7 linked regions of the Homo sapiens genome follow. The protein of the gene in region 6 purifies or fractionates together with the protein of the main gene of each other region. This does not show direct contact. Each region holds a gene or a part of one and is shown on either strand. Other genes may lie near its edges.

Evidence for each region.
Region 1: the proteins of SAR1B (region 6) and PGAM1 purify together in Homo sapiens (affinity purification with mass spectrometry; one large-scale study listed by BioGRID and IntAct). This does not show direct contact.
Region 2: the proteins of SAR1B (region 6) and EIF4H purify together in Homo sapiens (affinity purification with mass spectrometry; one large-scale study listed by BioGRID and IntAct). This does not show direct contact.
Region 3: the proteins of SAR1B (region 6) and BZW2 purify together in Homo sapiens (affinity purification with mass spectrometry; one large-scale study listed by BioGRID and IntAct). This does not show direct contact.
Region 4: the proteins of SAR1B (region 6) and CALU purify together in Homo sapiens (affinity purification with mass spectrometry; one large-scale study listed by BioGRID and IntAct). This does not show direct contact.
Region 5: the proteins of SAR1B (region 6) and NPEPPS purify together in Homo sapiens (affinity purification with mass spectrometry; one large-scale study listed by BioGRID and IntAct). This does not show direct contact.
Region 7: the proteins of SAR1B (region 6) and MPI purify together in Homo sapiens (affinity purification with mass spectrometry; one large-scale study listed by BioGRID and IntAct). This does not show direct contact.

The regions. Positions count from the first base shown.
Region 1 is NC_000010.11:97,428,852-97,432,009, reverse strand, and holds part of PGAM1 (phosphoglycerate mutase 1), read right to left. Parts: intron 1,632-3,158; coding exon 1,357-1,631; intron 1,056-1,356; coding exon 875-1,055; intron 1-874. UniProt on the Homo sapiens protein: Catalyzes the interconversion of 2-phosphoglycerate and 3-phosphoglyceratea crucial step in glycolysis, by using 2,3-bisphosphoglycerate. Also catalyzes the interconversion of (2R)-2,3-bisphosphoglycerate and (2R)-3-phospho-glyceroyl phosphate.
Region 2 is NC_000007.14:74,187,075-74,191,355, reverse strand, and holds part of EIF4H (eukaryotic translation initiation factor 4H), read right to left. Parts: intron 3,746-4,281; coding exon 3,558-3,745; intron 1,684-3,557; coding exon 1,619-1,683; intron 1,535-1,618; coding exon 1,438-1,534; intron 1,110-1,437; coding exon 1,050-1,109; intron 159-1,049; exon of another isoform or gene 62-158; intron 1-61. UniProt on the Homo sapiens protein: Stimulates the RNA helicase activity of EIF4A in the translation initiation complex. Binds weakly mRNA.
Region 3 is NC_000007.14:16,690,880-16,695,160, forward strand, and holds part of BZW2 (eIF5-mimic protein 1), read left to right. Parts: intron 1-3,954; coding exon 3,955-4,125; intron 4,126-4,281. UniProt on the Homo sapiens protein: Translation initiation regulator which represses non-AUG initiated translation and repeat-associated non-AUG (RAN) initiated translation by acting as a competitive inhibitor of eukaryotic translation initiation factor 5 (EIF5) function.
Region 4 is NC_000007.14:128,766,078-128,770,358, reverse strand, and holds part of CALU (calumenin isoform a precursor), read right to left. Parts: intron 2,904-4,281; coding exon 2,704-2,903; intron 1,297-2,703; coding exon 1,192-1,296; 3' UTR 1-1,191. UniProt on the Homo sapiens protein: Involved in regulation of vitamin K-dependent carboxylation of multiple N-terminal glutamate residues. Seems to inhibit gamma-carboxylase GGCX. Binds 7 calcium ions with a low affinity.
Region 5 is NC_000017.11:47,620,161-47,623,776, forward strand, and holds the end of NPEPPS (puromycin-sensitive aminopeptidase), read left to right. Parts: intron 1-1,366; exon of another isoform or gene 1,367-1,607; coding exon 1,608-1,760; 3' UTR 1,761-3,116; downstream 3,117-3,616. UniProt on the Homo sapiens protein: Aminopeptidase with broad substrate specificity for several peptides. Involved in proteolytic events essential for cell growth and viability. May act as regulator of neuropeptide activity.
Region 6 is NC_000005.10:134,608,205-134,612,485, forward strand, and holds part of SAR1B (small COPII coat GTPase SAR1B), read right to left. Parts: intron 1,471-4,281; coding exon 1,367-1,470; intron 300-1,366; coding exon 168-299; intron 1-167. UniProt on the Homo sapiens protein: Small GTPase that cycles between an active GTP-bound and an inactive GDP-bound state and mainly functions in vesicle-mediated endoplasmic reticulum (ER) to Golgi transport.
Region 7 is NC_000015.10:74,892,599-74,896,879, forward strand, and holds part of MPI (mannose-6-phosphate isomerase), read left to right. Parts: intron 1-62; coding exon 63-204; intron 205-539; coding exon 540-722; intron 723-3,553; coding exon 3,554-3,727; intron 3,728-4,281. UniProt on the Homo sapiens protein: Isomerase that catalyzes the interconversion of fructose-6-P and mannose-6-P and has a critical role in the supply of D-mannose derivatives required for many eukaryotic glycosylation reactions.

The sequences.
Region 1 (3,158 bases), on a different chromosome or scaffold from region 6:
GGGCCTCTAGGCCCTCGGGGATGAAGATGCAAATTGAGATTCATGTGTAAAGTTGTGCCTGGTTGTGACTAAGGAGAATTTTTTCTTTTATATATATTTGTTTTCCTTTTTTTTTTTTTTAAGAGACAAGGTCTTACTCTCTCACCCAGGCTAGAATGTAGTGGCACAATCATACCTCACTATAACCTCAAACTGCTGGGCTCAAGCGATCTCCCGCCTCAGCCTCCTGAGTAGCTGGGACTACAGATGAGCATCACCACATCAAGCTAATTTTTCATTTTTCTTTTGTACAGACAAGGTCTTGCTTTGTTGCTCAGGCTGGTTTTGAACTCCTGGCCTCCCAAGGTGCTGATAGTACAGGCATGAACCACTGTGCTTGGCCTTTTAAAATTTTGTAGAGATGCAGTCTTACTATGTTGCCCAGGCTGTCTCAAACTCCTGGCCTCAAGTGGTCCTCCTGCCTTGGCCTCCCAAAATGTTGCAATTACAGGCATGAGCCACTGTGCTTGGCAAGCTAAGGAGGATTTTCACTAGCAGTTTCATTTGACAATACCAATCTAGAGGTGAGCTTCTCAATCTTTAATGTGTATCCAAATCACCTGGGGAATAGATGCCGATTCTGAAACAGGTCTGGAGTGAGACCTGAGGTTCTGCATGTATAACAAGCTCCCAGGGGGTCCAGCTGTCACTATTCTGCAGATCACATTTTGAGAAACAAGGGTTGAGGGTGTTTTTTCACTAGAAGTCAATCTAGACCATCTCTAAAGCTGTTAACATGTCCAGCCCTTCCCTAGACTCCTTTTTACCAAGTCCCTGATTTGTGGCAGTTCTGCTTTATCCTTCCTTGAGGGCGCCTCTGAAAAAACATACATACCCTCCAGATGCTTGACAATGCCCCGGAGGCTGTTGCCATGGGCTGCAATCAGTACACGTTTCCCCTCCTTGATCTGGGGAACTATTTCTTCATTCCAGAAGGGCAGAGCTCTGGCAATAGTATCCTTCAGACTCTCACAGGAGGGTAGCTGATCTTCTGTGAGGTCTGCATACCTGCGATCCTAAGCAATAAAGAATCCAAGTTCACCACTTATTAAGAGTTACATCTGTTAAAAGACTTCATGATGTATCGATTTTGGCCCATTCACATTCACAGGGTTTTATAAAATCTGACTATGGAAACACAAAAAAGGAGATAGTAAACTATCAACCATATCTTCTAGTAAGTGAAGGTCATTCACTGGAGAAGGAAGGATTACAATTAACTATTTTATCATGAATTGTAAGTTCAGTGAGATTAGGCAGACACTACTAAAAGCCCCTGATCCTGGGCGGAGTGACCAAACCTCTGTTTGTCCATACCTTACTGATGTTGCTGTAGAAAGGATGGTCGGGCTCCATCGGAGGTGGTGGGACATCATAGGAGCGCCTCCAGATCTTCACCTGGGCCTCACCATGCTTTGCAGCAGTTTCTGCTTTATTGAGACCGGTTAGACCCCCATAGTGCCGCTCATTGAGGCGCCAAGTCCTCACCACTGGCAGCCACATCTGATCAATGGCATCTAGCACTGTCCAGAGGGTCCGGATCGCTCTCTTCTGCACTGAGGTGAAGCAGATGTCAAACTCATAGCCAGCATCTGGAAATCAGAAGTTCAAAGTGATAAGCTAACCAGGTCTACTCTGAGCCAAAATGTTCTTCAGTATCAATCTCCTGTACAAGTAGTCCAAATGACAATATTTGGCCAAAAAAGAAAATATTTGGCCAACTGTTTTGTTTATCCTTGCACTCTATCCAAGGTCACAGCTATTATGTGGGTTAAAACCTAGATTAAAACCCATGCTGTGGGACTCCAGAATCCAACTTTTCACCACCATCTCTAGCTATCCCCATTTTCCTAATTCCCAAGGATCCTGATGTTTGCATTTCAGTTAGAACTGTCACTTTTTCTTTTCTTTTTTTTTTTTTTTTTTTGAGACGGAGTCTCACTGTCACCCAGGCTGGAGTGCAGTGGCGTGGTCTCGGCTCACTGCAACCTCCGCCTCCCGGGTTCAAGCAATTCTTCTCCTCAGCCTCCCAAGTAAGCTGAGGATACAGGCGCACGCCACCATATCCAGCTAATTTTTGTATTTTTAGTAGAGACAAGGTTTCACCATGTTGCCCAGACTGGGAATTGTCACTTATAAAAGATATTTTACTAGAACTCTGAAGTAAGAAAATTAGGATTTAAATCCCAATCAGGACACAGGAAGAGCTCTTCCTGTACTGATAAAACTTCAGTTTGTTGTATGAAATTTTATTTTGTTTTTGTATTTGTTTGCAATTGTATTTGTCCATTGTATGAAATTGTATTCACTGTGGAGTATGGAAATCACATCACAAACTCTAATCCATGGTTTCTCTCTACTGTAGTCACAAAGTTCCAGCCTAATACCAAGTACCCTCAGAGTATACCTACTTAAATGTTAAACCAAGTTTAGGAGAAGCCACTCACTAAAGAAAGACCCAGTGCTGTGCACTATCTGATTCATCAATGAATCTGTCTTCCATACACAGTAGTTATTGTGGCAAGAGTTATGTTGGCCCAATGAATAGGTTCCAAGAAATCAGTCTTGGCCCGGCACGGTGGCTCACGTCTGTAATCCCAGCACTTTGGGAGGCCGAGGTGGGCAGATCACAAGGTCAGGAGATTGAGACCATCGTGGCTAACATGGTGAAACCCCGTCTCTACTAAAAATACAAAAAAATTAGCCGGGCATGGTGGCGGGCGCCTGTAGTCCCAGCTACTCAGGAGGCTGAGGCAGGAGAATGGCGTGAATCCGGGAGGCGGAGCTTGCAGTGAGCTGAGATCGCGCCACTGCACTCCAGTCTGGGCGATAGAGCGAGACTCTGTCGCACGCAAAAAAAAAAAAAAAAAAAAAAAAAGGAATCAGTCTTATTGATTTTGTTTCATTAAAGATTATTCACCCTCCCACCATAATGGGGAGATAGCCCTTTCCTTGATGACCAAGAAAACATTCCTGTTTTTCTCCATTAGGCTAGAAGGCCCTCTTAGAAATTCAGCACAAACTTGCCTGGATATTGCTTCATATTGGGGTTAGCAACAGTAATTAATAAAACATGAAGTGAATTTTTCTGCCAGTCATTCAAATGAGAATGAGGCCAA
Region 2 (4,281 bases), on a different chromosome or scaffold from region 6:
ATACCAAACTGGCAGGGGAAAGGCCGTTCCCTGAGCTGCTGGTTGGCTCTAAGAAGACAGCTGCTGCATGTTTCAATCAGAGACTAGCTTATACATAAAATTACAGATTGACTTCACCATACTGCACTTTTATGAATAAGCTCATTTCTGACTGGCTACAGGACTTTTAAGAACTATATTATTCAACAGGTAGTCGTCACCTGTTCAGCCAAAGCTGAGTTTTTAAAAATCTCAGACTCACAAGACAGCGTGCACCAGTCCCTCCCATACTCACCCACTACTTTACACCGGTTTTGTTTTGATGGGGGGAGGGTGCTGACGTTCTATACAGCACAGCATTGACAGCACATCCCAAGTTTGCGGGAAAGAAAACAAATTTGTTTTTCTCTTCCTACCTTTCTGGGTTACAACTGAAGTTTTTATCATGTGCATATATAAAAAATTATACTTTTGTAATTTAAAAACAGAAAGTAAAGATGATAAAAATGCTTAAAATCACCCTGCAGGGCAGAGGCCTGGCGTGTGGACTGATGCTTTGTGCTATACCACCAGCTGCTCTGCCTGGGTTGGCTAAGAAAGAGAACGGCGAAGTGCATCAGGTCCACCATCAAGGGACTGGACCTCCCCACAATCCTCCAAGAAAAAAAAGGGCCATCAGGACTACCTTTCACCATGTAAGAACCCAAACCTCTATCCTATGTTTTCCAGAAGGAACAGTACTTCTCTTGGTGCCATACACAAAACCACAGAGGAGTTTCCCTGGGCTAGAGTCTGAGAAAGACTGCTGAGCGAGCTCAAGGACCCAGGCCCGTACACATCCAAGGAGCTGCAGGCTAACAAAGGTGACCACACAAGGTGCATGGGGCTCAAGTCCTGCCCCCACAGGCTCTAACAGAGGCTTACTTGCATGCCTGGGCACCCTGCAGGAGAGTTGTATTTGTTAAAGGAACTAAATAAGTAGTCCGGCCAGGCGGGCTACTCGTAAGAAACAGAGAACAGCAGCAAGGCTCCTAGGAAAAATTAAGTGGTGATACTTTAAATACTGATACCAGAATTGAAGTCATCCCGGGAATCCCATCCACCTCTAGATTCTCGAGAGCTACCCATTCCTGAGGATACACAAAAAAGATAAAGTTGAGGTCGTGTCATTACCTTGCTGCGCAAACATGGAAAAATTCATTTGGAAGACATACAACTCAAGTGATGGAAGGTTCAATGAAATCATTTTAAGAGCTTTTGCTTCCAACAGAAAACAAAAAACGCCAGGCTTGCAGAAGCATCAGCCATTCTTTCTAGGATTTTACGCAAACTTTTAAGAGCTCACGAGAACCTATCACACCTATGAGATAATCGAGTTCTACTAGGAACGTTCACGAGTTGGAATTGGTAGGCATACTGCAAATCTTTATGATGTTCAGCTTTAGAAGAACCAATCACCTCTGTCATCTGGTCCACCTTTTCTGAATCCAAAGCCACCTTTATCTTGTTTTCTGCCTTCTGCAATGTCCACACGAAGTGACCGATCGCCCAACAGCTAATGATAAAGGGAAAATAGTGTAAGTATTGGCAAAGAAAACAATCTCAACTGCTATGACAGAGAAAACCCGAGGATACTTACTGCACCATCGTATGTCAAGGCTTCCTTAAGGGAATCCACTTCATCGAATTCTACATAGCAGAATCCTGGAAAAGAAAAGAAGACCCCGATTTCCTCAAGTAATTCTGGGTTAAAGATGTGGGAAGATCCTATTCATACTACTTCTCCACGTCACAACTACCATTCTGTTGTCTAGATGATGGCAGACTAGGAGAGCCTTTCAATAGATAGAACCCTGACTGGCATTCCTCCCTCTCAATTCTATTTTATCAGTCAGAAAATGCTAACTGAACATGCACTGAAATAGCAGCTGCGTTTCTAGAAAGCTTTCTTCTTGAATGTTTTAACCATAATATTCAAACCTTTCTCAGGCCATCTGCAGAGCTCTTCTGACTTCTGAATGACTATTTAATCTAAGTGAGGATTAGATTTCGTAGATTTCAAACTTGGTACCTAAAATGCTCTGAAGAAAGAGGCTTAAAGTGCCGATTTAACTTACTACTCAGGTAACTGACATAAAATTTGCTTCACAAAGCTGAAAATATATCCTTGGCAATCAGGGCATTCTTCTCTGAATGTTAATTAAAAGACAGGCAGCCTGGGTCCAAGTACCTGTTACTGACAACCTGTGTCCCTGATGCCAGGGGTCTGACATTGCCCCTTCCTTGCTGTCTGGAGTCTAAATCTAGTTCATTACTCCCCAGATGCTGGCACTACACCCTGCATCCCCTCTCCCCCAGCGTCCTTGCCCTGTGTATAATAACTTAATAATCACACTTCATCTTTGAAGCCCACTAGACCGCAAGTGCTCTAAAGGCCTGAGTCCAAACTTTCCCTGTTTACCAACTGTGTGTTAAGAACATACTGCCTTGGCTGGAGGGATGTCCCCCCAGGTTTCCTCCCTAAGTGGATTCAATGTTGAGAATAATGGAGAAAACTACCCCCAACTTCACAGAAGCAACAGACACCCAATCTCATCTTCTAGAGCTGCTCAAATGAAGATGGTCCTTCATGAGCCAAACTCCAAAGCCTGCAGCGACTGACCCAGCCCAAAGGCTAGGCTCACCCACACACTCCAACCCAAAGTTTAGTTCCTAATGCTTCCTGGAGCTTACTTCACAAGTGTAACTGATATATTTGTTTTCACTGTTTGATTACACACTACATGTGGCTTCAGATTCTGAAGTCAAAAAGAGTAAGAGTGCCACCGACACACAAAACCACCCAGGTCAGCAAGGCCTTCTCGACTGCTGGCACAGCTCCCCGCCCCAAGTTACCCCATACTTGTCACAGATGTGCTTTTGGGTGGATTATGCGGGCCAAACATCCTGGGTCCTAGCATCGTGCACTTACACAGCAGGCACACTTCCTTCAGGAAGCCCTGCAGGCAGGAGAATGCTGCTCGGATCCCTTCTTCTTCCTGCTCTTTGCTCCCGCACCCTGCAGACACACGACCTATAGACACCATATCTGAAATCTCAGCCAGCCCTCCCAAGCACACTCTCCAAATTTACAAATGCATACTGACAGCACTGGCTGCTTCTCTTCTGGGTTTTATGATTACTGGATGACAGTACCATATGATTACTGGATTAACTACCAAGGAAAATCTACGAGTCATTCCAGGAGGAATGTGCCTAAGAGTCCTCGGCTCTATTCCTCTCTCTCCTGGGGAACTCCTTTACTGGCAGACAGGACTGCTGTAGAGGTCAGGCTCACAAACCTGGGCATATGCCATGTATTTCTATGAACTACACTGTGTACAAAACATTTTCCCCTAAGTGAACTGAAGACCTATGAGTTGAAGAGTTATGTTTCTTTCGGCCACTTAGACCAGGCAAATGTTTAAAACACTTTCTTGATTACAGCCTCTGGTTCACAAATCTATTTTTATTTAGAACCCCTTCCCATCCTCCCCTACACTTTACAGTAATATACAATAAGAATCCCCCAAACTCACCTTTAAATTTATCTGTGTCTTTGTCTCTGACTAGCCGTACACTCCTTATGCTGAGATCCTTAAAGATAGCATCTATGTCGCCCTGAACCGTATTGAAAGGTAGATTTCCTACGTATGCTGTGTAGGGGGGCTCTGTGGGCAACTCCTTCTGGCTACGGGAACCATGGCCACCAGCACTGCCGCGGGACCTAGGAGGGGAGACAAACAGGATTCAAGTGTGCCCAGAGTGGAATAAGCAAAACAAGTAAAGCGGTCTTCCGCTGAGCTACGCCGCCAGCGCCCCAGGTGAGGCACTCTGCTCGATGTACCACAAGACTGTTACAGAGAATGGCTGGAGAAACAAAAAAAAAGGAAAAGAAAAATTTTTTGAGACAGACTGTCACTCTGTCACCCAGGCTGGAGTGCAGTGGCACAATCTTGGCTCACTGGAACCTCTGCTTCCCGGGTTCAAGAGATTCTCCTGTCTCAGCCTCCTAAGGATGCTGAGATTACAGGCATGTGCCACCACACCTGGCTAATTTGTGCATTTTTAGTAGAAACAGGGTTTCACCATGTTGGCCAGGCTGGTCTCCAACTTCTGACCTCAGGTGGTCTGCCTGCCTCACCCTCCCAAAGTGCTGGGATTACAGGTGTGAGCCACCATGCCCAGCCCAAACGTAACACACCTTCCTAAGACAACTGCTTCTCTCCTATTCACTCAGAATCTGTATCTGCAGTATTTACA
Region 3 (4,281 bases), on a different chromosome or scaffold from region 6:
TTACAGTTCTAGGATGAAGTGTAAAAATAAGACACAGCGCTGCCATCTCTTCACCTGGCCTGTTCTCTGTTGTTCTCTTCCAATGTGTTTCAGTGTGCAAGGGTCCAGTCCCATGAGATAATTCTAAGACTATCTCTTTTCCTCAAGAACACATGAAAGTAATTTTAAATGTAAATACTTGCAATTTAAATCACTTAAGAATACTTTGTTTCTTGAAGTTTACCTTAAATAGATTTGTGTGTTTAAAGTTTTTAGATTATGGTAAAAAAGGTACAGAAGTCTAGATTCTAGTTCATAATAATTTTCATTCCTCATGTTTCCTGAATGTCTACCCTGTGCTGGGCATGGTACCACAAGCTGCAGAGCCAGTAGAGAACAGGATAGAAAAGTTGCCTGCCCTCGTGAAACCTACTTTCTAGTGGACTTAGGGCAAATCCCTGTAAACAGAAGCAAAAGTCACAGAAGATAAGTGAATAGGTTGCTGAGGAAGGTGGAGGTTCATATGAAGGGAACATATTTCTTGTCCATGAGGCTGTGGGTTGTCTATAGATTAGCTCTATCTTGGCTAAGCCTGGCTTAGTTCCACATGCCTTTTCATTCGGGCACAGGCTGAGGGAGCAGCTCCCATCTGGGCCATTCTGTCTTCATGGCAAAGTACCAGAACACAGAGACTGAACTGAACGTCTCAAGTACCTTAAAAACTCACCTATGGACGCTGCCATGCCTGGCAATAGATTGGGAAAATCCAATCCACTAATAGGCTGCTTCTCCACCTCTGCAGATAGACATAGCAAGGAGGGGGTTCTCTTAATACTCTTTTGAAGAAGAGAAGGTGTATGATTGGGAACAAAGATACAATCTATCCGGTTATTTCTTAAAGCAGTAATTTTCTTAAAGATATTCACAACTATAGCCTGGTTAGCTTAATTAGATGGCTTCATTTATAAAATTCATTTTCTTTTTGGAAACACATGTCATTTAGCTGTTTTTACTAGGTTCTGTGTGTGTGTGTGTGTGTGTGTGTACATATGTGTGTGTTTGTGTATATATATGGAACATAGGTGGTGGTTTCTGCGAGAAACATATAAACTGGGTGAGAACAGCGTAGTTGCCTATGCACTATGCCTGCCTGATATTTGTTGAATCAACAAAAGAATGAGGAACTAGTGAGTCAGTTCCACTCTTTAGGAGGAAATTTTGTTTTATGAACATATACAACAAAATTCTCTTTAACTGTGAACTACTACATTTTAGGAAAAGTTGTGTATTACTAGACTTTAGCTATCACCCACTATTACAATACAGAAGAAAGAGCAATTTATAGCAACTCAGAGAGGTGAGGGGATGGGAGAAGCCAACCCTTATTACTGACAAAGAGAATAGTGATTAAGAAATCAAAGATATTGATCTCTTCCATTATTTATTCAATAAGTATGTATCGATTATATTATATGCCAGAAACTTCCAAGAGATGGGGAGATTGAAAGGAACCAAACCAACAGACCCTTTCCTTCATGAAGCTTATATTCTATTTCAGGAGAGTGGGCCATAAACTAAAAACCGTAAAATATGTATTATAATAAAGGTAAAAATTAAGTAGGGGCCAGGTGTGGTAGCTCACACCTGTAATCCCAGCACCTCAGGAGGCTGAGGCAGGTGGATATCTTGAGATCAGGAGTTCAAGACCAGCGTGACCAACATGGTGAAACCTTGTCTATACTAAAAATACAAAAAATTAGCCGGGCGTGATGGTGCACACCTGTAATCTCAGTTACTCGGGAGGCTGAGGCAGGAGAATTGCTTGAACCCGGGAGGTGGAGGCTGCAGTGAGCTAAGATCACGCCACTTCACTCCGGCCTGGGTGACAGAGCAAGACTCCGTCTCAAAACAAAACAAAACAAAATTAAGTAGGAAAGAGTTAAAGAGCTTCCAAATGTGGGCTGTAACTTTCAGTGGTGGAAAGCCCTCTGTGATAAGATGACATTGGTGTAAAGACTTGAGGGAGGTGTGGAGTGAACTGTTTAAATATCTCCACATAGAGCATTCCAGGCAAAGGGAATGGGAAATGGGAAGGCCTTGGGGCATGGGATATTGGGGACCGCAAGGGGAGAGCAGGTGAGAGCAAAAGTGTAGATAAGCTCAGAGAAGTAGCAAGGCCCATATCATCTAGGGCTTTGGCTTGTATTCCAAATAAGATAGAAAACTTTTGGAAATTCTCTGCAGAATGGTGTGTAATGTGATTTTGACTCTCAACAGGATCACTCTTGCTGTCACTTTGGGAATAGACTCAGGAGCAAGAGCAAAAGCAGAGAGACCTTAATCTAGGGATGAGATGATACAGATTTGTACCACGGTATGGTTTCTCTAAAAAAATACAAACCATGTTCCAAGTCAAAAAATGACATGGTATGATTTAGACGGGCTTCCCCTCAACTTAATCTGAATAATGATTTTCAATGTATTATATACTATTCATAAGAATTTGGAATGTAGTTCATAAGTGAACTACGAGTGATATGTTTAATGGCATATTGCTCTGAACATAACTTTAAATCAAACTTTGCAGTCACACTCTTCCTAAATAGAATATTGAATGCTAGCACAGAGTAATGGAATAAGTATTGACTTGGGGGCACACAGCTCTGTTCTTAAATATTTTTGGTGGCATAAATTGGGTCAAGCTGCTTAACCTTGTTGAAACTTGGTTTACCGTCTAGAAAAATGTCTGCTTTACACAGTTATTATGAGGAAAGTGCCAGTACATTTTGATTCATAGAAGAAACTCAATAAAAATACATTAGTTCCCTTCCCTGCAGATTTGGAAGATGTGGAGCAGTAGAGGAAATATCAGTGACGCAGTTTCAGTGTGGTATAAAATGTTTGCTTTATTATGAATGCGTGTTTGATAGCTGCTCCCACCAGCTCTCTTCTGACATTTTTGAAACATATGACTCAACAGGGGAAATTAATAGGATGATAGAACATTGAAATTTGAATCCTGACATAGGAGCCCTCCAGCTGTGTTCCTATAGGTGGTGGCAAACCCATTGCAGATCTACTGAGGCTCTTTCTGGAACCACATAGCCATTGGCCATATATATGCAAGTCTAACCAATACAAAAGCTTGGATATATTTTTTAGACCCTGCAGCAGTCTGAAAAATGTGAGAACTTTGAAAATCATCTTAATTTCATAGATGGGAGTTGAACTCACCCAGGATTAGATCATGACTAAGTGTTACTGAGATTCTGCCAAACTGTGTAGGGTAAAATGGAAATGAGGTGAAAATATGAGAGCAGCTATGGTATATTGCTCTTTTTGAAAATTTCCATCAGAATTATGTAATAAACTAGAGTTGGTAGGGTAGGTGTCTTAGACCTTTTCTATTACTTATAACAGAATACCTGAAACTGGGTTATTTATACAGAAAAGGAACTTATTTCTTAACAGTTATGGAGGCTAAGTCCCATGTCAAGGGGCTGCATCTGGTGAGGGCCTTCTTGCTGGTGGGGACTCTGCAGTGTCCCAGGAAGGCTCAGAGTATCACATGGCGAGGGGGCTGAGTGTGCTAGCTCAGGTCTCCCCTCCTCTTTTTTAAAGCCACCAGGTCCCCTCCCAACATAACCCACTAATCCATGAATGGATTAATCCATTCATGAGGGCAGAGCCCTTATAATCCAGTAACTCTTTAAAAGCCTCATCTCTCAGTATTGCCACAGTAGGGTCCAAGTTTATCTCAATTGCTTACCCTTTTTTTCTTTTTCTTTGTGAAACTGCCTGATTTCAGAAGATGTTTAGCTCAGTAAATATACCAGAGATTTGTTGTTTTGTAAAACAGTCTTTATTCTTTTCTTCCAAATGTGAGATATTCTAAGTGAAATGAAGACTTTTGTCCTTTATGCTTGCTGAAATTTGAATGGCTTGTTTTATAGCAGTCTTTTTTCCCTTTTTCAGGAACTCTTTCCAGTTAACAGACAGAGTGTGGATCATTTTGCTAAATACTTCACTGACGCAGGTCTTAAGGAGCTTTCCGACTTCCTCCGAGTCCAGCAGTCCCTGGGCACCAGGAAGGAACTGCAGAAGGAGCTCCAGGAGCGTCTTTCTCAGGAATGCCCGATCAAGGAGGTGGGAGACCACGGGCAGACATCACCTCAATACACATGAATGAGAGGAATTACATGGGCTGTGTAGCAAAGGCTTTCCTTAACAAGTCTGTCCTATGCTTATTGCTGTAAACTTTGTCCACTTATTCCTACCATTTAAATTAACTCAGCTTCAAAG
Region 4 (4,281 bases), on a different chromosome or scaffold from region 6:
GGAAATCAGCCCACAAGATAAGAACACTGCAACCAAACTCATAACTAATACTGCTAATTTAACTATTGTCCAAAAGAGAAAGGGAAGAAGAAAAAAATCCCCACTCTACTGGGAGGTTCTAGGCTTTCCTATAAGTTATCCAAATAGTCTTTTTTTAATCTCAGGGTTTCTTAAGAGAATTCCCATTCAGTGACCATTTCTTTCGTTAAAGGCACTTTCAATGACATGATTGGAAAGGAGTGAATTTTAATTGTAGTGAAACCAAGATTAATTCCTTGGCACACCTGGGAAGAAGAGGAACCGGATGGGGGCATTTACAGTGATTTCAAAAGGCAAATAATTAAGTCTTGAGCATTTCAACAGATGCACACCCAGAAAAAAAATGTATGCCCCGAAAACACTTGTATTTTTCCTTTAGTTTTCCAGCTGTTTCTATCTATAGCTCTGCAAAGAGATCACATTCACTACTTGATTGATTTTCAAGACACTGGCCCTAACTCTTCCCACCACAGCTGTGCTTGACAAAATTAGCCAACAGTCAGTCCTACAGGGGGAAAAAGAAGAAAATCAATTTGGGCCAAGCTTTCCTAGAGCAAAGGGATCTTTCCTTGCCCAGGTAATGGCAGGTTCAGTTGCTGGACCTATAGCAACTGAATGTAATATGTGGCCCCTACTACCTATGAAATGTTGGACTTTTTGACAGGCAAGACTAAGTGTTCTCTCTCTAAATATAAATTGTGGAGCATATATTTTTTTTCTTTCCTCTCTCCTGAACATTTCTTATTGATCTCAGGCTTACAAAATTAGTTAAGTGAGAATTATTAAAATCATAAAAGGGGTTGAGAAAGAGTAAAGAGCTAATGTTTGTCTACATGTGTGAGTTGAGGATCTTGATCCTTCATATCATACTCCCAACCAGAGAAAAATACAAAAATAAACACGCCATGTTAATACATAATACAAAGTGTAAATCTACAAACACAAGTGTACTAATTAGAGTTGTTCCTCAGAAGCACGGCTTCCCTCCAGTCCCTCAGAGAGGAGGAGGAATGGGGACGGGATGGTTTTCATTACGCCTTTTCATGTCTTAAAAAGTTTGTAGTAACAGTCTCAGTAGCGCAAACAATTTCATGTGAAACCAGAAGCTGTAAAAATAAATTACTTTTGAGGAAATGAGGGTTCCTCCGTAGCTCAGAACTCATCATGCCGTACTAAGGCCTCCCCAAAATCTGTGGCCTGGCTGCCAACAAATAAGTCATACTTGTCAACGATCTCCTCCTTGGTAAGCTTGCCATCCTGAAAGTAGAGATAGCAATGAATTGAAGAAGAACATATTTCCCATTAAAAATTCAGAAACACTGTTATAGAAGAATTGGGGTTAATCAGAAGTTAAGATTCTCATTTCTACTAAATTAAGTGTGAACTACTCAGCCCTCATTCCCCCTACATACATACGAAGAGGGAAGAAAACAGCAATTACACATTCCTTGTTTTTTTTTTTTTTTTTTTTTGAGACGGAGTTTCGCTCTTGTTGCCCAGGCTGGAGTGCAATGGCGCGATCTCAGCTCACCGCAACCTCCGCCTCCCGTGTTAAAGTGATTTAAGTGATTTTTCTGCCTCAGCCTCCCGAGTAGCTGGGATTACAGGCATGCGCCACCACGCCCAGGTAATTTTGTATTTTTAGTAGAGATGGGGTTTCTCCATGTTTGTCAGGCTGGTCTTGAACACCCAATCTCAGGTGATCCGCCTGCCTTGGCCTCCCAAAGTGCTGGGATTACAGGCGTGAGCCATCGTGCCAGGCCAATTAAACATTTCTTTTATCAAGAAAGTTAAAAGTGGAAGGGTGGAAAGAATATAACACAACAACTCAATGCTAGAGATAAAGGTTTGTTTCATGAGGAGAAAACTCTCCTTTTAGAGGAAAATATGGAACATCTCCTAGATAGGGATGACTACATGCATTTCCTTTTCTCATACATCTCAGGACACAACACCTGGCTACTAAAGTGACTTTGAGCAAGAACTTAAAGCAGATCAACACTTAAAAAGGCTCTAAAATAAAAAACTGAATTTGAAATTGAAGATTAGCTTAGACAAAAATATACTCAGAACACTGAAAATCTCCATCTTTAGACCGATTTTCAGCTTACTCCAAGCAGGGCAGGAGTAATCTCTGAAGCAGGTGACTGGGCTTAGGGACAACAATACTTTTAACAAAATACCTCAGATAATTAATTGATCAAGGACAATTTGAACAGGCTCCAGAGAAAAGCTGATTTATAGCCCATACAAAGGACCCAATTTAAAAAAGCCTATTTGATTTAAGAAGGAAACAACCAGCTTTGAGTAGACAGAATGGGCCTGTAATAGGTAAAGGAACAAATGAAGTAACAAAGAAAAAAAAAAATTCCTGGGGATCTAAAAATACCTGATGATGCATGCTGGGCACAGGCTACACACAAAGGCTCTTTTCTGAAGCCAAATTTCCTACAATGCTATCAGCACTGGGCAAAAGGATTTCTAAAATGAGATCAGATAGCTAGTGCTGCCCTGAAAGGTTTTAATCGCCAGATTCAGATACTTGGCTGACTTAGACTAATTAAGACCTTAAATGCTCTATGCACCTTAACAGAAACTGTTCAGGTGATCCCCTAGAAGCATACTTCAATCAAGGATAGAGCGTGTGGGCCTCGCCAGACTTACCTTGTTTTGGTCTGATTCATAGACCAGGTGCCTGGCTTCTGCCTCTGCATGATCATAGTCTGAGGGAAGGATCCAGTCTTTGGTCTCTTCCTTGTCCATCTTCCCATCACGGTTCTTATCCCGAAACTCAACAAACTGCTCTCGCTCTGTCTTTACCCATTCTGGCTCATCAGTATTCCCATCATGGCTGTACATGTCACCTGGGTACACAGACATACATACAAAAGAAGGGTTTGTCTTTTCCCCAAAACTGCCTCATGCTAATCTGGCCTAACCCTTTTTCCTCATCCATTTGTTTGGAACCCAACAGCAGCTACAAGGGTATTTTAGGCCAGACAGACCTTAGAAAGCAAGGTATTTTCCTGAGGCTTAATCACTTATCTTGCAACAAGAATATTTCCAGCTGCTGATTTTAAGTCACATGAGAGCAAAGAGTTCTTATACCTTAATAAATGCAGAAATAAGAGGAGAGAGCTACCATCAAGAAAGACTTAGACTCGTTCCCTACATTTCATTTCACCCTAAGGTAGCTAATTAAACGGGACCACTTGTTTTAGAAAGGTGTAGCCAATTACTACAAAGAGTCCATTATACCAGTGGCCTTCAGTTGGGACAAGCACGCCCCTGGGGAAACAGGAACACTGTCAAGGAGTACACTGAGAAAGGTCAGTCAAGAGAGAATCAAATTCCAGATACTCAGTTCCACATATAGATTTTTCCAAAAATTGATCTTCATAAGAATGTACCTCTGGCCATCAAGGCTTTTTTCCCATCTCCCCCCTTTCACAACTGCCCTTGTCCCACTTTATAAAAGAAAGGCATATTTTCAACCATTTTGAAACTAGAGTGTAAAAAGCTCCAAGATAATGAAAAAGAAACAATTAGAAATACTAGTGTCTGGATGGGCGTGGTGGCTCACACCTGTAATTCCAGCACTTTGGGAGGCCTAGGCAGGCAGATCACCTGAGGTCGGAGTTTGAGACCAGATCACCTGAGGTCAGGAATTTGAGACCAGCCTGGCCAAAATGGCAAAACCCCATCTCTACTAAAAATACAAAAATTAGCTGAGCATGGTGGTGCGTGCCTGTAATCCCAGCTACTCGAGAGGCTGAGGCAAAAGAATCACTTGAACCCAGGAGGCAGAGGTTGCAGTGAGCCGAGATCATATCACTGCACTCTAGCCTGGGCGACAGAGCAAGACTCCGTCTCAAAAAAAAAAAAAAAAAAAAAGAAAAAGAAATACTAGTGTCAGTCTTGAGAATGCAAATGCCTGAAAAAAAATGAATAAATTCGTTTGCATGTCAAAAGGTTTTAAATTCTTTGCTTTAAAAAAAAAAACCTTGAAAAATGGCCTAATTGAGTTTTAGCTAAGGGATCATTAAACATAATTTTTGGGCTGGGTGCAGTGGCTCATGCCTGTAATCCCAGCACTTTGGGAGGCTGAGGCGGGTGGATCACTTGAGGTCAGGAGTTTGAGACCAGCATGGCCAACATGGTGAAACCCCGTCTCTACTAAAAATAAAAAATAAAATTAGCCGGGCGTGCTGGCCCACACCTGTAATCTCCAGCTACTGGGGA
Region 5 (3,616 bases), on a different chromosome or scaffold from region 6:
CTGAGATCGTGCCATTGCACTCCAGCCTGGGTGACAGAGCGAGACTCCTGTCTCAAAAAAAAAAAAAAAAAAAAAAGTCCTAAAAATGGAAAGCCTTCGAATGGTTTATAAACAAGGCAGTGCCTTGATCTGATTTGTGTTATAAAAATTTCAGTCTGGCTGCAATGTGGATAATAGTTTGGAATGGGGAAGAGAAGATGTTGGGAAGCTAACTCTCCTAGCAAGAATGATAGAATAGCTTACAGTAGGGTAGTGGCAGTAGTGGAGGAGATGGAATAATGGAGATTCAGGGGCTTGAATTTGTTAACCATTTAGTTCAACAATATTTATTGATTGGCTTCTCTGTTGTGAGCATATCTGGGAGAGGAAGAAAAACAAGCCAGGATAATCCCCAGGTTTCTGGTGTATAAATGTTGGTACTACTCTGCGATGGAATGGAAAAAGACTTGAGGCCCTGAGAACTGAACCATGATTAGGAGCCTTGGAACAGTAGCAATTGTCATCTGTGTAAATAAGGTTATTGATTTCTAAAAGGTCTATGTTTAATCAGATGGATTAGTCATTCTGTCTTTCACACCTGTGGTGACTAATTCAAAGGAAAAGCCCTATCATTTTGCCAGCTGGTGTTTAAGAGTTGCTTTGTTTTCTGTGAAACCAGGTGTACTGCATTAGAAAAGTTTATTCAACTTTTAATCATTAAGCATTGTGATAAATTGTAAACTTAGAAATTGTTTGGTTTACTGTATTAAAAATGTTGGATTCCTGTAATTCCAGCATTTTGGGAGGCTGAGGTGGGAGGATTGCTTGAGTTCAAGAGTTCAAGACCAGTCTGGGCAACATGGTAGGACCCCATCTCTACAAAAAGGAAAAAACAATTTGGCCTGGGAGTGCACGCTTGTGGTCCCAGCTACCCAGGAAGTTAAGGTGGGAGGTTTACTTGAGCCCAGAAGGTTGAGGCTGTGATGAGCCATGATCGTTTCATTGCACTCTAGCCTGGGCAACAGAGTGAGACCCTGTCTCAAAAAAAAAAAAAAAAAAAAGACCATGGGGTGTTAAATTATTAGGGCATAGCAGCAATTTAAACTTCTTTGTATTATCATCCCTTACAAATTAATCTTTATTTGAAGCAGCCAAAATGTGTTGAATCCTTAAGTACTCTGTGCTAGGTATTTTGTCAAATGTTTATATGGATTGTCTCTTTAATCTTCTGGAGTAGATATTTTCTCATAGTTGAGAAAACTGAGACTTAGAGCAGTTAATTTTCTCACAGTCACAAGCTAGTACATGACTAAGCCTGGATTCAGGTTCCAAGTCTTCATTCCAAAGACTATATTTACCACTACACAATTAGCCTAAAAGAAAGGCAGTAGGTTCTGTCTCTTTATTAACTTTTGATTAGGTTGTTAAGCATATAATTAAGGGGAGAATTCCTATATGCAGGTCCAAGGAGTTGCTTGTTTTCTTTTAGCCTGAGGGTGGCAGTGGTAAATTCTCATGCCTGAAGATTATGCATCCTTCATATAGACCAGTGGGTATTTTTTCATAACCTGTAATATTAACTTCTTATTGCTAGTAATGATCCTGCATTCTGGGTTGTTTTATACCAGGCTTTCTTCGAGAGTCACCCAGCTCCTTCAGCTGAGCGTACCATCCAGCAGTGTTGTGAAAATATTCTGCTGAATGCTGCCTGGCTAAAGCGAGATGCTGAGAGCATCCACCAGTACCTCCTTCAGCGGAAGGCCTCACCACCCACAGTGTGAATCCTGAGGTGCCGCCATTGGCGGTTCTGCTGCTTCGCTGCAGGGATAAGGTGGAGCTACCGAACAGCTGATTCATATGCCAAGAATTTGGAGTCTTCTTTCAAACCAGTGGGGGTTGGACAATGAATGTAGTTAACTGGTTCCTGCTCACACTCCAGAATTAAATTCTATTGAAAAAGGAAAATCAGCAATTCAGCAAAAAATAAATAAAAAATAAAAATGTAAATATGATAGTAATAAAATAGAGCATAACGAAACTGTGAAACTTTCTGAAGCCTTGTCAGTGGTTAAAAGTATTTAACACTCTACTGTTAATGACAGATGTTCTGTTTTTATAACCTACCAAAAGGAAACTAGAGGCTTCTTGGTGAAGAGCATTTTTGTGAAGTGGGTTCTGCAAGGAGCCTATAAAGCCAAGGGTGGTGTCCATTTCTGGGAATGGTTAAACACAAAAGGCTGATAGCTGGTATCACATAGTTGGAGTCAGTGCATAATTCCAAGTGGCTTTTTTTTTTTTTGGCACGGGGACTGATCAGGAAGATATATTCCTGCATAACTCAATCTGAACCAAGGATTGTAGTTTAGTTTTCCTCCTTGCCTTCCCTTCTGTGTGACCGACCCCTTGGCCAAAAAAAAACAAAAAGCAAAAAACAAAAACCTACCCTGTTCTGGTTTTTTTCCTCCCTTTAGTTCCACCCCCAACCCCCATTCCCTGGTGTCCTTCTTAGAGATGAAGAAATAATAAGGAAACATCTTTCATAGCCACATTAAATAAGAGAAACTGATATACATTATTTTTTTCTTTTTAAAGATGACTTATAAGAACCCTGAAATTTATATAGGTGAGACAATAGAAATAAAAAGATCTTCAGCCAGGCCTTTCTGAAGGAGTTATTCTGCTAAAAATGGTCTTAGTTGTCTGAAAAGCCAGCTCTTGAACCTCTTCACAACAGTATCAACACTGGCTTCTCCCGGTTCATTTTATGCGTGCGAGAAGTCAGTGGTAACTGCTGCAGGGCTTAATACATTAGTGGTAACTGGTTTAAAAAACAAAGACTGTAAGCCTGTGTGTGCCACTGTTTGCTTCAACAGTATATCCTAATAAGCCTCACCTATTTAATCCAATGAGTTTTAAATCTAAATCTCATTCCCTTCTTCTTTCCCTACCTTTTTTTTCTTTTTTTCTTAAAAAAATATTTTGTGTTATTAACAGAAATTCATATTTGGTGTGGCTTAACGGTATTTCAGAAGGTCATCAGATTGTGAGACTGCTTCCTTGAAACATTTTTGTGCTATTGTTTTAAAAAAATAATTAAAAAACAGTTGGCGTTAATAAAAATGTCAATGTGAAACTGATGTCCTGATTCACTTTATTCTCTTTCTTTGATAAGAAACTAAAAACTTTCCTATCATTCAGTAGGCTTATGCAAAGTTATACTATCATAGGATTTTTCAAATTCAAAAAAAATCCAGTTCCTTAATTCCTAATTTATAGATCTTAACAGAAAAATCCTGAGATTCATTCTAAATCAGTTCTACATTCTCAAAACTCTCTCAGAGACTCTTATAGTCAGCATTCAGGAATGAACTTGAGACTTCCTCAGTCCCTAGTTTTGAGGCACCCTAGTTCAGGCACCATGCTCAGGGCTGCCCTTAGGCTCTCAAATGTTCTTAAGGCACCAGTGAAGCAGGGGCACCAAAAAGACTGAGAAAAATGCAGGTTTAATTGAAGAACTCAGAATTTTGCAATCAGAAATTCTGGAAACAGGTTATTTTACTTTCAGCATACATGTGATTTTTGTCTGTAATAATAGTTAAGTAGTTTGAATTACGTTCAGGGAGAGGTTATACTAGAT
Region 6 (4,281 bases):
ATTCCATGGTAGAAAGAAATGAGGACATTAAAAAGACCCACAGGTATAAATGACAGTTTTCTTTAAGAAAATGATAATGGGCTTGTATAGTTGGACAATAGTAATTTAAGAAGACATTTGTACTGTAGAATTAAACACACCCATCATAATTTTTTTTTTTTTTTTACCTTTCCTGTTGTCTGACCATATAAACCAAACATCTCTCGCAACCTCTCTTCACTGATGGCTTCAGGTCTGTCGATCTTATTCCCAAGAATCAGTATAGGCACATTAGCAATGGTTTCATCTGTCATTAGTGACTGAAAAAAACAAAACAATACAAAACAAGAGTTGATATGAAACCATCCAAAGAGCTTATTTTGATATGATAAAACAATAAAGGACTCATTTTCTACCATATCATGTCATACCAACGTTCTTTGTCAAACTTTCCCCACATTTTAAAGTGACCTCAATGAAACCATAAGCTAAATTCTTCTGTCTTCCTAAGGCTCTTCCTGTAAATGTTTACTCTGCTCATCCTTTAAAGGAGTGACATAGAACGTATAGAGCCAGCACCTTAGAAGTGAACAGATGTGGTTTCACTTCTGGCTCTACTGCTTTTGAGATGTGACTTTGGGCAAGTTAGCCTGACTGAAGCTCTAGAGAGAATTAGGAACAGTAGCATCCACCCTATGAAATTGAGAATTAAATCAAGTAATACGCACAGTCTCTGGAACAAAGTAGGAACTCAGGCATTCTCTGTCCTTGTTTTGTAACCATAGAACCTACCTGGACTTTTCCACACGTACAAGTATTTGTTTGCCTGCTCTGGGCAGAGCCATGGTATGATCAACCTTCAATCAAATCATGGACCTGCTTACTCTGTGGCCCCAGATCTGGTGCTGACCTTGCCTGCTGCTGTTGGGCCCCTTTACAAAATATCTGACCTGGGATACTGGAGGGGAGGTAGCTACATATGCCTCTGCTCACTCCTGGGAGTAGTGTCAAAGATGGCATGTCCTATCATTTCCAGGCTGTGGCTTAAGATATAGCATCTTAGCATGACCAGGGACTCAAGATCAACCCACTCCAGGAATATAACAGACATGAAATATACTAAAAGGGTACATTCTGTACAGGGTGAGCTTCTTAAGTCTTCATAAAAGATGTCTGTGTTAGTACTTCCTCAATAGCTACAATTACTCAGTTACTCCCTCTGCATTCTAAGTAATCACTACTTAAAGCAATCACTGAGCTCAACAAATTGCCAAGAGTTTCATCAGAGACTGCAGAAAAGCTGCACTCTGATACCTGTATCTCTGACCTACTTCTGCAGGCTTACCAGAGTGATTTGACTATATTTAGTTTCAGTTATTTAACTTACATCAAGTTCTTCTTTTGACTCTAACAGCCTTTCGTGGTCTGCACAATCCACCAGAAATACAATGCCATTGATAGCAGGAAGGTAGTTTTTCCACACTCTTCGAGCTAACAAAAACAATCAGGGGTTAGAGTTTACTTGTTGGTCAAACCCAGCAGATGGTTTAAGCAAAGAGTCCAACCAGATATCAAGTGCGGTAATCCCTTAGCTGCTGGTACTTCACAATATATTCAAGTTAATCTTTTACCCAGTGGTGCCAAATTCTTCTGAGAATAACTAAGAGGGAATTTCAGGCTTTCCTTGACTGTGGGCAAGTCAAATACTTTAGTCTCTTCCAATTATCATATGTAAGGAGTAGAATATTTAAAATAAAAATAAAAATAAAAAAAAATACACGTTAAGTTCATTGGAGGACTGCTACTAGATCTAAAATATAAGCAGTAAAAAAACTACATATATGTGATTATATATACATAAAATGTGTGTATTTATATTACATATATATGCAGTGTTCATTTTTTGACATTTCTAGTTATCAGATTTTTTTTGCCAGTGATAAATTTGGAATGAGTGACAGAAGGAAATTAATATCAGGTACAAGCTTGTTAAAATAATAAGGCCGGGTGTGGTGGCTCACACTTGTAATCCCAGCACTTTGGAAGGCCAAGGCAGGTGGATTGCTTGAGCTCAGGAGTTCAAGACCAGCCTGGACAACATAGTGAAACCTCATCTCTACAAAAAAACACAAAAAATTAGCCAAGCCGGACACAGTGGCTCATGCCTGTAATCCCAGCACTTTGGGAGGCTGAGGCAGGTGGATCACCTGAGGTCAGGAGTTGGAGACCAACCTGGCCAACATAGTGAAACCCTGTGTCTCTACTAAAAATACAAAAATTAGCCAGGCTTGGAGAATCACCTGAACCCGGGAGGTGGAGGTGGCAGTGAGCCGAGATCATGCCACTGCACTCCAGCCTGGGTGACAGAGAGAGACTCCGTCTCAAAAAAAAAAAAAAAAAAAAAAAAAAATTAGAAAGTGTGGTGGTGTGTGCCTGCCCAGCTACTTGGGAGGCTGAGGTGGGAGGATGGAGCCCAGGAGGCAGAGGCTGCAGTAAGCCAAGATCATGCCACTGCACTCCAGCCTGGGAGACAGAACCAGACTCTGTTTCAAAAAAAATAATTAAAAAAAAACCAAAACAAAATTGTTTTACTCAGAAAAGAAGCTCAAATGTTAATAATTAACTGAAGTCTATGAAATCATAAGAGTAATTTTTTCCATAACATAACTTTCTTCACTGACTTGAGTTTTATGACATACCTTTTTTTTTTTTTTTTAAAGAGACAGGGTCTTGCTCTGTCATCCAGGCTAGTTCACTGCAACCTCAGACTCTTGAGCTCAAGTCATAGTCCCATCTCAGCCTCCTGAGTAGGTAGGACTATCAGTGTCTATCACTATGCCCCATTAATTGTTAAATTCTGTGTAGAGACAGGGTCTTGCTATGTTGCAAGGCTGGTCTTGAACTCCTGGCTTCAAGTGATCCTCCCAACCTCAGCCTCTCAAAGCACTGGGATTATAGGCCTGAGACCCCACACCCAGCCATTATGACATATCTTGAAACAACATAGAAATGAAGTCTCAGACAAATTCCATTAGATTCCAATTCTAATCATCGTATTCCAGAAATTATTTTGTGTATATGCCAGACAATTACATGTCTCAAATGTGCTTTCACTAGCCAGAACCATTTACAATCTTTTCAACTATATGTCGCATCAGGTTTTTAGAATGCCCACCAATTCGGTAATATTGGTTAGTTATGACTTACTATGAGGTAGATGTTGCCAAGTACTTTTGGGGATATAAAAAATGAACAGGCCAGGTGTGGTGGCTCACACCTGTAATCCCAGCACTTTGGGAAATTGAGGTAGGAGGATTGCTTGAGGCCAGGACTTCAAAATCAGCCTGGGCAAGATTGTGAGACCCCATCTCTACAAAAAAAATTTTTTTTAATTAAAACAAAACAAAAAACAGGATTTTAGTCCCCGCAAGTTTAATATAAGAGATAAGGCAGTCTTTCCAAACTTGTTGTAGACATGTACACAAATATACTAAGTGCTATGAAGTATAGCTGAGAGCACTCCAACTGAGAATGGCTTCCCAAGGGAGGTAGCAGGGCATACGCTGGGGCCTAAAGGGGTTACTCATGTGCGGATGGGGATGGCATGAACAAAAGCACAGAGGAAAACACCAAGAAGGTCTGATTTGGTTGAAGCAAAAAGAACGGGAAGGGGAATAGAGGGAAATAAAAGAAAAGTAGGCCAGATGTGGTGGCTCACACCTATAATCCCAACTTTTGGGAGACTGAGATGAGAGGATTGCTTGAGCCCAGGAGTTGGAGACAAGCCTGGGCAACATAGTGAGTGAGACCCTGTCTCTATAAGATAATTTTTAAAAGCCCAGAAAAGTAAACTGGGACCAGATCATAGAGATCCTGAATGCCAGGTTAATGAGTTTGGCCTTTATTTTGTAAGTAATGAGTTAGCCACTGAAGGTTTTTTTGTTTTGTTTTGTTTTGTTTTTGTTTTACAGAGCAGTAACATGTTCAAAACATGATTATGACAGTGAGAGGTAGATTGAAGTAGAGAGAATGGAAGTTAATTTTACTCATACACTTTACCACCAAAAGCAATTCTCATTTGAATTGGCCAGAAGTATCATGAAAATCACCCTTTGCTTTTAAAGTATTTATCGGGGAGTAATAATCCCTAAATTTTAAATCTACTCTGGCCTTGCGTGACTAGAATGAGATTTCATGCACTAGAACTAATGGCCACATTTTTGTTAAGTTAAAATAAAACAAAGTGACTGTAAGAGTAAGAGAATCTTACCTTGAACGTGGCGAAATCCCATCTCTACTAAG
Region 7 (4,281 bases), on a different chromosome or scaffold from region 6:
GTGTACCTGCTAGGTAATGGCTGTACCCTCACCATCCTCCTCTTCCCCTGGCCACCCCACAGGAGCTGGCAGAGAAGCTGCACCTCCAGGCTCCGCAGCACTACCCCGATGCCAACCACAAGCCAGAGATGGCCATTGCCCTCACCCCCTTCCAGGGCTTGTGTGGCTTCCGGCCAGTTGAGGAGATTGTAACCTTTCTAAAGAGTAAGTTGGGCAGAATGCTGAAGGCATGCGTACTGGGCCAGGGATACCTGGGGAACCAAGATGATAGGAACAGTGGCTGAGAACGGGTCACATGTCACAGGAACTGAAGGGCCTCATGAAGCAGTTTTTGGAGCCAGTGAGCCAGGCCAGTGAGACCAGGCTCAGGTGTGGTAGTCAAGGGCTGGTGGTGAGTGATTGGTTTCCACTGCAAAGTTTACTTAGCATTGCCGGCTCTTTGGTTAGGGCTGGGATGGAAAGGTGTCCTCCAACTCCCCACTTGTGTGGGTTCCATCTTACCATTCCTGATATGGGCCCTGGGCCTTGCCTTCCTGTAGAGGTGCCTGAGTTTCAGTTCCTGATTGGAGATGAGGCAGCAACACACCTGAAGCAGACCATGAGCCATGACTCCCAGGCTGTGGCCTCCTCTCTGCAGAGCTGTTTCTCCCACCTGATGAAGAGTGAGAAGAAGGTGGTGGTGGAACAGCTCAACCTGTTGGTGAAGCGGATCTCCCAGCAAGGTGGACACAGTTATATTCCTGGTTGGGTGCAATGCTCTGGCCTGGGCTTCCCAGCAGACACCAGACTCTGGGGACAGTTCTCAACCCCCTTGCCCAAGTGGAACACTAAAAGGGGCCCCACTTAGATGACCTGTTGGCAACTTAGCATTGCTTGCCTAGTCTTTGTGGAGCAGGGCCCTTCTTAGTTGAGTGCTGCTTCCCAACTGGTCATCTTCTCCAGATGGTTGGAGGCAGACTGGCATAGAGGACTCTTAGGATGCCTTCCACCTAGGCATTCTGAGATTTTCCCTAGCCCTGCAGCTGCCCTCCATGGATGGACTTGTATCTCGGGGCTAAAGAGGCAGGAAGGGGACACGAGCATCCTCCCTCTCCTGGAAAGGACTGATGCCTCCAGCACTCAGTCATTTGATCTTTCCTTTACCTTCTGTGTGCCCAACCTTGTGCTAAGAAGAGTTCAGGAAATGACTGTGATGGGTGTGGTCACTGTCACCCTAAAGGTGGGGAGTCAACACAAGCAGTAAGAAACCCAAAACAGAACAGACTCCCAGCAATGAGCTTATGTGGTGCAGGCGATGAGGTCTCAGCTTCTTAGCCTGGCAGCCACAACCCCTTCTCTAGGTGGCCCAGAGCTCTCTTTTTATTTTACCTCTACAGGTTTCCCATTACCTTTGAGCCTTAGGGCATTATTTATTTGACCCAAGCATATTTTTTTCTGTTCAGTGTGTGTGTGTGTGTGTGTGTGTGTGTGTGTGTGTGTGTGTGTGTGTGTGTGTGTGTGTGTGTGTGTGGTCTCTTTCTGTTGCCCCAGGCTGGAGTGCAGTGGTGCGATCTTGGCTCACTGCAGCCTCTGCCTCCCGGGTTCAAGCAATTCTCCTGCTTCAGCCTCCTGAGTAGCTGGGATTACAGGCATGTGCCACCACATCTGGTTAAGTTTTTATATTTTAGTAGAGACGGAGTTTCACCATGTTGCCTAGGCGGGTCTCGAACTCCTGAGCTCAGGCAATTCACCTGCCTCAGCCTCCCAAAGTGCTAGGATTACAGGTGTGAGCCACCACGCCAGGCCCCTTGCCTCACTTTAAAGAAGCCTGGCTGGGCACGGTGGCTCACACCTGTAATCCTAACACTTTGGGAGGTTGAGGCGGCCGTATCACTTGAGGTCAGGAATTCAAGACCAGCCTGGCCAACATGGTGGAACCCCATCTCTACTAAAGATACAAAAATTAGCCAGGCGAGGCAGAGGTTGTGGTGAGCCTAGATCATGCCACTGCACTTCAGCCGGGGCAATAGAGTGAGACTCTGTCTCAAAAAAAAAAAAAAAATGCTGGGCATGGTGGTGTGTGCCTGTAATCCCAGCTACTCAGGAGGCTGAGGCGCAAGAATCACTTGAACCCAGGAGGTGGAGGTTGCAGTGAGTCTAGATTGCACCACTGCACTTCAGCCTGGGAGACAGAGCAAGACTCCGATTCGGAAAAAAAAAAAAGAAAAAGAAAAAGAAAAAAAATTTAAAAATTAAAGAAGTCCACCCTTGCCACTCTACCCAGGCTGAGCTCATTTTCCCTTGTCGTTTCCAGGACACATTTTGGCCCTCAGCGCATTCTGCCTCATGCTCTCTGGAGCAGACCGAGAGAGATTCTCTGAGACATAGAACTTTCTTTTTTTTTTTTGAGACGGAGTCTCGCTGTGTCACCCAGGCTGGAGTGCAGTGGTGCAATCTCGATCACTGCAACCTCCGCCTCCCGGGTTCAAGCGATTCTCCTGTCTCAGCCTCCCGAGTAGCTGGGATTACAGGCACGTGCCACCACACCTGGCTTTTTTTTTTTTTTTTTTTGTATTTTTAGTAGAGATGGGGTTTCACCATGTTGGTCAAACTGGTCTCGAACTCCTGACCTCGTGATCCGCCTGCCTTGGCCTCCCAAAGTCCTGAGATGACAGGTGTGAGCCACCGCGCCCAGCTGAGACACAGAACTTTCAGTGCTAAAAACTAGAAAGTCGCCGGGTGCGGTGGCTCACACCTGTATTCCCAGCACTTTGGGAGGCCTAGGTGGGAGGATCCCTTGAGTTCAGGAGTTCGAGACCAGCCTGGGCAATATAGCGACCCCCTCTCTCTGCAAATAATAAAAAACTTAGCCGGGCATGGTGGCATGCACGTGTGGTTCTCGCTACTCAGGAGGCTGAGGTAGGAGGATTGCTTGGTCCTGGACAGTTGAGGCTGCAGTGAGGTATGATCGTGCCACTGCACTCCAGCCTGGGTGACAGCGAGACCCCGTCTCAAAAAAAAAAAAGGGAAAGCTCGGGCATGTTGGTTACCCTTCATGAAACTCTTTTGCGTTATCTCCCTAGATTTTGAGCTCCAAGGGCAGTGGTTCTCATACAGGGGACATTTGGCTGTTGTCTGGAGCCATTTTTTGATTGTCAAAACCCAGATAGGGGTTGCTAGTGGCATCTTGTGGGTGGAGGCCAGGGAAGCTGCTACACATCCATCAGTACACAGGACAGCCCCCACAATAAAGAATTACCTAGCCCAAATGTCAGTAGCGCCAAGGCTGAGAAATCCCATCCTGAAAGGACCATACTCTAGCTCTTTTAGTGGCTAGTATAGTCCTGGGCATATGAATAGTCAAGATATGATGAAAGATGGTATTTGTATGGACTGGAGTATCAAGCAAGGCTCGACCCCCAAAGGGCTGGAGGCGTGGCCAGAAGGACAGGGCCACTTTGGCTTCTGGATTCCTGTGGCAGGGACCTTTTCCTAGGACTCCCTGGCCAATGTGGGGCTATGAACAGCACTGAGTATCCCCCTAAGTGACCTTGGGGTGCTCTGTGACCCTCAGCGGCTGCCGGAAACAACATGGAGGACATCTTTGGGGAGCTTTTGCTACAGCTGCACCAGCAGTACCCAGGTGATATCGGCTGCTTTGCCATCTACTTCCTGAACCTGCTTACCCTGAAGCCTGGGGAGGCCATGTTTCTGGAGGCCAACGTACCCCATGCCTACCTGAAAGGAGGTGAGCCACATTTCAGCAGTGAGCCCCACTGCCATCCCTGCTGGGCCCTGTTTCCCTATCTGGACAAAGGAAGGAGAAGGGTGGTCAAGGAGACCCCCAAGGACCTTGCAGCTCTGACCTCTGAGGGTTCCTGGGCTCAGCAAGCAACAGCTGGTAGGGATGATGAATGCATTTAGCATTGAACACGCCTTGAATCCTGACACCAACCCTGTGATGCCATGCTACTCTGATTTTAAGTCCTGCCAGTCAGTGTGGGAACCACAATTTGAACGCAGGCTATATTGGATCAAAGCTGTTGTTCTGTCACAGCCTTTGTATGTCTGTCCTACCTACCAGGGATTTTTACACTAAAATATGCATGTTGCCATGGAAGGATGCCACCTTTCGACTGTTGGCTGCTTATCCACACATGCCTCATGCACAGGATTCTGGGGTAGAAGTGGGAGACTACAGAGTTGGGGCTCCCCAACCCCCAGGGGTTAACATGACTCCCCTCTGACAATAATGGGTGACCTGTCACCTGTTTTTGGTATTTGATATCTTAACCCCATTCT